Homo sapiens: one gene and its partner. The protein of the gene in region 2 interacts with the protein of the main gene of each other region in a pairwise test. Each region holds a gene or a part of one and is shown on either strand. Other genes may lie near its edges.

Region 1 (3,748 bases), on a different chromosome or scaffold from region 2:
CTTGAATCCAGATACTATAGATTTACTTCATTCTTACAGCCAAGAAGATTGGCTGTGCCCTACTCTCAGGCCATAACTCAGTATATAACAAAGCTATCTCACTGCCTCTTGTCTTATTTTTATATTTACTTGTTTTATTATCTATTCTTCCTCCTACAGCCCCTCCCCAATTTATTTATTATGGCTCACTGCAGCTTTGTCCTCCCAGGCTCCAGTGATCCTCCCACCTCAGCCTCCTGAGTACCTGGGACTACAAGCACGTGCCACCATGCCTGCCTAATTTTTAACTTGTTTGTAGAGATGAGAATCTCATTATGTTGCCCAAGCTGGTCTTGAACTCCTGGTCTCAAAGGATCCTCCTGCCTCAGACTCCCAAAGTGTTAGAATTACAGACGTGAGCCACGACACCCAGCTTCCCTCTCCAATTTAAAAGCTCCTTGAGAATAGAGGTGTGTCGTTATTCATCAATGAATCCTCAGCAACAGAAACAGTGCCTGACACTTAAGAGAGGCACTATAAATACAGATGGACTGACTGACCAACTGGGGTTAATGTGTAGGTAATAATAGGAGAATCTGTTCCAGCTCCAAGAGTTGGGGGATAGTGCCTCCACTTTACTGACCTCGGGATAAGTCTGTCCCTGCTGCTGGATATTCCCTCATTTGTTCGCAGACATTTATTGCGGGCCTTCTTTATACCTGCCCTATGCGGTGTATTACTGATACAACATGAACAATATGGAAAAAATGCTTTTCCTAAAGGACTTAAAACCCTGTGGGAGCGACAACAAGGAAACAGACAATTATAAGACAATATGATAAATGCTATAGGTCCACAGCAGAATCACCTAACCTATGACGTGGGTGGGATTAAGGAAGGCATTCCCTGATATGGGGATTACCAGGCACTCTCAGCTCAGGTGGAAACCGTTATGGTAAGGTCCGCTCTCAGAGGTGGTAGGGCCCAGAAATGACATCATCCTAAGTGTAAGTATGCAGACAGCACACAGAGGGGCTTGGTAACTGAAGCTGGGCCCAGAGGATGGGGTCCTGACCGATTGGGAAGCTGTCAAAGCCATCATTCCCAGCTCATAACCTGGGACCCATGACTACCCAGAAAGGCATAACCAGGATGAAGAAACACAGGTCTCTCCAGCTTACTGGAGAGACTGACTGGGGAAGCTCCTCACAGCTGAGGCCAGAAACCTTTTAAACAGAAGTTTCCTCTGAGTGGACCTGAACAAGCCAGTTCCCTCTTCCTTAGGACGGCCCTTCACAAATCTAAGCATTTTCCTCTTAGCTTAATCCCTCCTTGTCTCAGGTCTCCCCCAGGCCCACATCCGAAAGTAGATGACAATAATTACTTGTTGAATGAACGAATCATGAGGAGTCATGTAAATAGAATTCTGTCACGTTGTGAGCCCACATTCACCTTACGGGTATATTGGAGGGCGGGAAAACGGAGATGGGGGGCTCCACTAATGTGTGTCTGTGATCCTGGTTAGATCGCTGTAGGCCATAGAAAGTTTCATTTTAAAAAAATTCCTTTCACAGATCAGAAGTGATGTCCCCGTCCCCGTCTTCTCTTCTGAGTTTGTGCAACGTCAAAACTACAAGTCCCATAAGGCCGGCGGCCGGGAGTCACCATCTTGACATACCTTAGCGCGCATGTCGGCGGGAGAGCGAGCGTTTGGGGAGAAGAAGCCCCGCCTGACTGCAGCCCATTGGTCAAAGGGGTCGGCAGCGGGCTCAGCGGTTGGCCACAGCGCCCGCCCGTCCGCCGCGTCGGTCGGGGTCAGAGTGCGCGGAGGTGAGTCGGTGTGTTGTGGACTCGTGGTGCTGGCTGCCGCTGTTCAGGCGGCCGGGAACGGGCGGTGGGGAGCGGGCGGAGCTGGCCCTGCCTCTGCCTGGCCGGCGCCGCAGTCGGCGCGGGCCGCGCCCGCCGCCGCCAACTGCCCTGAGCGCTTGCTGAGGCCGAGGGAGACGTCGGGGCCTGCACCTGGAGGGAGCCTGCCGCGCTGGCCCCGAGGAGGGGGCGTTGCCATGGCGACAGCCTCTCCCGCTGCTGACGGGGGGCGGGGGCGGCCCTGGGAAGGAGGGCTGGTCTCCTGGCCCCCCGCCCCTCCCCTTACTCTCCCCTGGACTTGGATGGGCCCGAGTTGGGGGCAACACCCCGGGGTGGGTGATGCTGAATGGCCCCGCCAAGATTGGGCCCTGGTTAATGCATGCGGGGTGAGGGTCGCGGTGCGCAGAATTTATGCAACCTGGGGTGCTGGCCCATGTGCTTACCCTGGATGCTTACTTAATCTACTGAGTAATGTTCTGGCGGAGGGGGAGCGGGGCAGAGCTTTGCAAGACAGGATGGGTGAGTTTATTAAGGGGGTTGACTTACTGGGATTACTAGAGAAGAAAAAGGTTTGACTAGAGAGGCTAGAAATGGAGCATGGAGATTGTGGGTAGAACATTCCCTTGACCCTCTCGCCAACACATGCCCACACACCAGGTTAGCAGTTTACCTCTTTGTAAATCTGAAGCGGTGGTAGTAGTGATGGTGGAAGGAGTGAATAAGGGCCTAACCTGGCTAGCTTTCTGTTTGCCTGTCTTGCAAATGGTCCAGCAACAGGTGTTTTCTTAAAAAAAGCATGAACTTGGATTGAGGCTTGACTGCGAGTTCTTGCAAAATATAACTGCTCCTTGTTGACTTGGAAGATGCTGGATGTGGGGCCCCTCAATGGGGGTTTGGATTTTGTCCTTAGAGCTGGATTTTGCAACAAATAGTGCCCATCGTTGTGTCTGCGAGAGGTCTCTGGCCACTTCAATGGCATTTACTCTTGTCAGACATTTAATCAGTCTCCCAGCGGAAGGGCAGCAAAACATGAATCCTATTGGCTAAAAGAGTGTACGCTATTCAAACTATAGTAGGTTGTGAGTGGCTAAATGAGTTTTGATTGTAGAGTTTCTTCCAGAAATTGGCTTCATCAAATTCTGCTTTATTCTGACTTTATCATATACAGCATGCCTTGTTTTAGTGGGTTCTTGCTTGGAGCTTAGTTTATTATACCTGAATCTCCTACCATTTAAAAGCCAATTTATAAACAGGGACTTGGAGTGTGACTCCACTAATGTGTGTCTGTGATCCTGGTTAGAAACCCACTTGGCTGCCTTTTCCTCAGGAGGTGGGGGTTGGGGGAAGGGAGCTGCCGGGAAGTGATTGATAAGGTTTCCTTTATAGATTCTGTGGTGCTTCACTGGAGCTCAGAGCACTTTGGCAACTTAAGCACTCCAAATTAAAAGCTCATTAACAATTCCTGCCCAAAGATCCTGTAAATAATCAGCTAGCTAGGTCATAGAGCTTGGCTAAGAGCTTTTCTTCCAACTTGAAATTTCCAAATAAAAGTGCTTTTATTCCCTTTCATTTTAAAAAGTGTTTTCTTTGTGGTGGGGTAAATTGGTGAGTGGCCTTTTCCCAGGGGATCTGAGTAGAAGAAAGTCTTAAATGTGTGGAATGGTAGACAGGAATATATTAGTTCCAACCCTAGGTGTTTCTTTATGCAAAAGACATCACTAACAGGGGCATCTCTGCAACTTCTGGTCCTTTGGAGGATATGAATTAGTTGAAAAGGATGATAGGTATCTATTGATGTTTTGACTTGGGATTTAGTTACCTTGACTTTCTTAGAGCTTGAAGCAGGCTTGGAACTATCCTGAAAGTGTTTCCTAGTCTATGTGGCCATTTTCAGTATGGCTTG
Region 2 (3,748 bases):
GCGGCGCCGCGGGCGGCGGGGGCTGCTGTTGAGGTATATTCATGGCGGGCGGCGGCGGAGGGGGCACAGCGGTAGCCGAGAAGGGGCCGCCGAAGCCGCCGCCGCCGCCGCCGCTCGTCGGAACGCTGAGCCCAGTGCAGCCGTGCGGCGACACGGGCGAGAAGCTAGGGAAGAAGGCCGGGTTCATGGACGACGGCAGCCCGGGGTAGAAGCCGTTCTCTGAGTCGGGGCTGGGCGGCGGCATGGCGCTGAGCGAGCCGCCGCTGCCGCCGCCCGGGGTGGTGGCAGACGAGCCGGGCGGCTGCGGCTGCGGCTGGGGCGGCTGCTGGGGTGGCGGCGGCTGCTGCTGCGGCTGGGTCGGCGGCGGCTGCTGGGGCTGGGGTGGCGGCGACGCGGTCTGCACCGACCAGGGGGTGCCGAAGCCGGGCAGCGGCGGCGGCGACGCGGAGCCGCCTCCCCCTCCGCCTCCTGGGGGCCCCCCGCCCCCGCCGCCGCCGCCGCCGCCCGGGTGTGGAAGGTCCGGGCTCTGCAGGCTGCTGAAGGCGCCCGCGCCAAGCGCACCTCCGGGCAGGAGGTTACTGGGACTGTTGAGCAGAGGGTGGTTGGGGGACTCCATGGAGCCCGGCGCGGGGTTCACCGGCGTCGAGGAGGCCAAGCCCGCATTGGGGGACTCGGCGGCGCTGCCCTCGCCCGCGGCTGGGGTCTTGCGAGGGCTGCCCGCGCCTCCGTGGCGGCGCCGCGGGGCTGCAGGCGGCGAGGGAGGGAGCTGCGGGAGCGGGGGCAGGTCTGCCGGACGCTGCCGCGGGGCGAAGTCCTGCGGCGAGAGGTGCTGCTGATGCAGGAGGCTGAACTGCTGCGGCGGCTGTTGCTGCTGGCGCTGAGCGAGCTGCGCCGGCTGGAGGAGCGGGCCGGCTGGCGGCGGCGGCGGGCTGAACCGACCGGGGCAGTGGAGCGGCGGAGGCGGCGGCGGCGGCTTCGAGTCCGGAGGGTGGGGAAGGTGGGGAGGGCTGAACTCTTTCCTCTTCTGGCTGCTCAGCTGCTGCTGCTGCCGCTTACTGAAGTCCTGCGGGGAGGAGGTGCGGCAGCAGCAGCAGGAGGAGGCGGAGGAGGAGGAGGGGTGGTGCAGACTCGGTTTGAAGTCCTGGGAGGGGAGGAGGTGGGTCACACCCGCGATCGTGCCGCCGCCGGGGTGGTGGTCGGGGAGTTTCTCCGTGGCCGCCGCCCCCGAAAGCGGCCGCGCCGGCTGCTGTGTCAGCCCCAGAAGCAGCTCATCCTGCATGGTCTGCTGATGCGCCAGGAACGGGGAGGAAGAGGAAGCGGCGGCGGCCGGGCTGCCCGCGCCGCCGCCGAGGGGGACGGAGAAGGGGGAGGCGGCCTCTAAGAAGCCGGTGACAGGCAACGGTGGTGGCGACAGTGGGCCGAAGGGCGTGGCGGAGGGCAGCGGGTTGACGGACCCCACGGCGTAAGGACCATACGCCTCGCCGCAGAACAGGGGCCCAGGACTGCTACTTCGGAGCGGGGCGGTCTGCAGCACCCCAAACCCGAAATCCCTCATTTATCAGGCCGCCGGCAGCGGGAGGAGACGCTCCTCGTCCCCTGCCCCACCTAGGAAGCCGCCGGCGCTGGGGTTGCGCGGCCGTGGTGGAAGGAGGGGGAGTCAGTGAGAGAGGGACACCGTGACTGAGCCAGGGGGCACCGACTTCGGCCCCACCACCCCTCGCGGCGATCGCCGCCGCCGCCGCCGTCGCAGTCGCCGTAGCCGCCCTGGCCGCTTAAGAACCCCGGAACGTGCGTCAGCGCCACCTCACAATCGCGCCGCCCCCCGCGGTGCGTCCCGGCACGCGCGGGCGCGAGGCCACCGCGTCCCCGTCGCCCCTCCCCGCCCCTCATTACTATGCAGACGCAGCCGAGGGCGCGCTCGCGCTCCCGGGAGGGCGGGAGCGAGCGGCGTGTCCCGTTGGGTCTCTCCGCTCCCGGGGAAATGGACAGGCCGGTTGGGGTGGGGGTCGGCTGGCAAACAGTGGTCGGGAGCATTGGGCGGGCGCGCGCACGAGGGCAAGCACGCGCGGGAGGGAGGGACGGTTCCTGGGCAACGGCCCCTCCTTGGCGCGGGATCCGCGCAGAGTCTGCCTGGGTCGCACGCGTCTCCGCCCCTCGCGGTGCCTCCTCCTTCCTGTCACCTCGGTTCCGCCCTGGGTGGGGAGAAGCCCTGCTGCACCACTCGGGCTTCCCAGAGCGGGGCTGGCCCGCGGGGGAAACTGAGGCCCGGGACCCCGACCGGCGCCTGCACTGTGCGACCCGCGTAGAAATAGGCGCCCGAGGGGCCCCCAGCGCAACGCGGGAGCCCGGCCCAGCCCGGGGGTCCTGTGGTGAACTAGCGTCTGGGCTCTGCCGGCTTGAAGTCCGCTGAGCGCCTCGCCGCGCACCTCTAGACCCCGAGTCCCCGATCTAGGGCCTCCTTGTAGCCCTAGGTAGCGCCCTCTAAGCTTGTTTCTGTTTTTAGGCGCTGGTAGGAGTGCTGTCACCGACGTCGTAGAGCCGCCGAGGGTGTTTCTGTAGGGTAAACATGAAGCCTCGGCTATATTCCAGGCATTTTCACTTGGGTAAGAAGGAACAAAGTCCCTGGAACAAACACGCTCCGCGTGGTTATTTACACACTCGGATGCGTGGAACGGGTTCCACGGCGAGCTCCCATAGTAACCCCGGGCCAGCTCCGCTTCATAAAAGCCTTTCGTGTGCCATCAGGGCTGCAGCGTGGGACTCCTCCCCACCACATTCATTCCGGCGTCCCCGCCCCTTCCCCCCAGGGAGACTCTAATTTATTCCTAAGCTTTATGAATTTTCAAGGGAGAAATAGTTCTTACATCAGGGAAAAAAGGAGGTTCTGACTCAGCAGCAGACTTGTTGAGACTTGCAAAATGGAAGGGAGAGAGCTTTCCATGGTAGAGCTCTTTAGAAGCATTAGAGGAGGAACTAATCCTGTGTTTCCTTTTGTATAGAAACATTTTACATAAAGTATTTGAAGGTCTAGATAAAGAATAACAGAGTGATCCATACTACATGATGAGGTGAACTTTATGTTTCTGTTTTGTAATTTTAACTGTTTTGCTTGATGCTTAGAGAAATGAAACTATTAAATGAATCCTAGAATATAGACTCAAACCCCCAAAGCAATAGAAGGTGGATTCAGACTTTACTTGATTTTGGTTTACAAGTGAACTAAGATTAAATATTTAATTTTATAAATTAGCATACTCTTACTGATGTAGGCAGAGTGTACATTTTTATAAGTCCTCATTCTCTATTTGAATTCTACTTCTGTTCAGTGTCTCAAATTTATATAAATCGAAATAAACATGGTAGAAAGAGAGCAACATTGCCCCAGGGAACTATACTTCATGTATAATGTTTATCTCTGCTATCCTGTCCAATGAACCAAGTTTTATGTTGCCTTTACAATAAGGAAAAAGTACTTTTTAAAAAACTCAAATGGTTCAGAATTTGGTCAGGTGAATAGAAAATTGGTTCAACTTATTAATCTCAAAATCATTTTTAACAGTCAGGCAAAATGTAGAACTGGAGAAGTATTTTTATTCTAAATTACAATGTCTAGAAAATAACCTGAGCTCAGAATTTAAAATATAAATGGTTATTTTCAGAGTATATATTGACATATTAAATATTCATTTTTTAAAAGGTATTGTGCAGGAAAAAAAACTACTTCTGCAACTAAGGAATGTAAAGTCTT

The links. The genes of interacting proteins can lie anywhere in the genome.
Region 1: the proteins of CPEB2 (region 2) and ERI3 interact in a two-hybrid assay, tested with the Homo sapiens proteins (one study listed by BioGRID).

What each region holds. Positions count from the first base shown.
Region 1 is NC_000001.11:44,353,321-44,357,068, reverse strand, and holds the start of ERI3 (ERI1 exoribonuclease 3), read left to right. Parts: upstream 1-1,811; 5' UTR 1,812-2,042; coding exon 2,043-2,177; coding exon of another isoform or gene 2,178-2,231; exon of another isoform or gene 2,232-2,316; coding exon of another isoform or gene 2,317-2,364; intron 2,365-3,748.
Region 2 is NC_000004.12:15,000,481-15,004,228, reverse strand, and holds the start of CPEB2 (cytoplasmic polyadenylation element-binding protein 2), read right to left. Parts: upstream 1,749-3,748; 5' UTR 1,556-1,748; coding exon 1-1,555. UniProt on the Homo sapiens protein: May play a role in translational regulation of stored mRNAs in transcriptionally inactive haploid spermatids. Binds to poly(U) RNA oligomers. Required for cell cycle progression, specifically for the transition from metaphase to anaphase.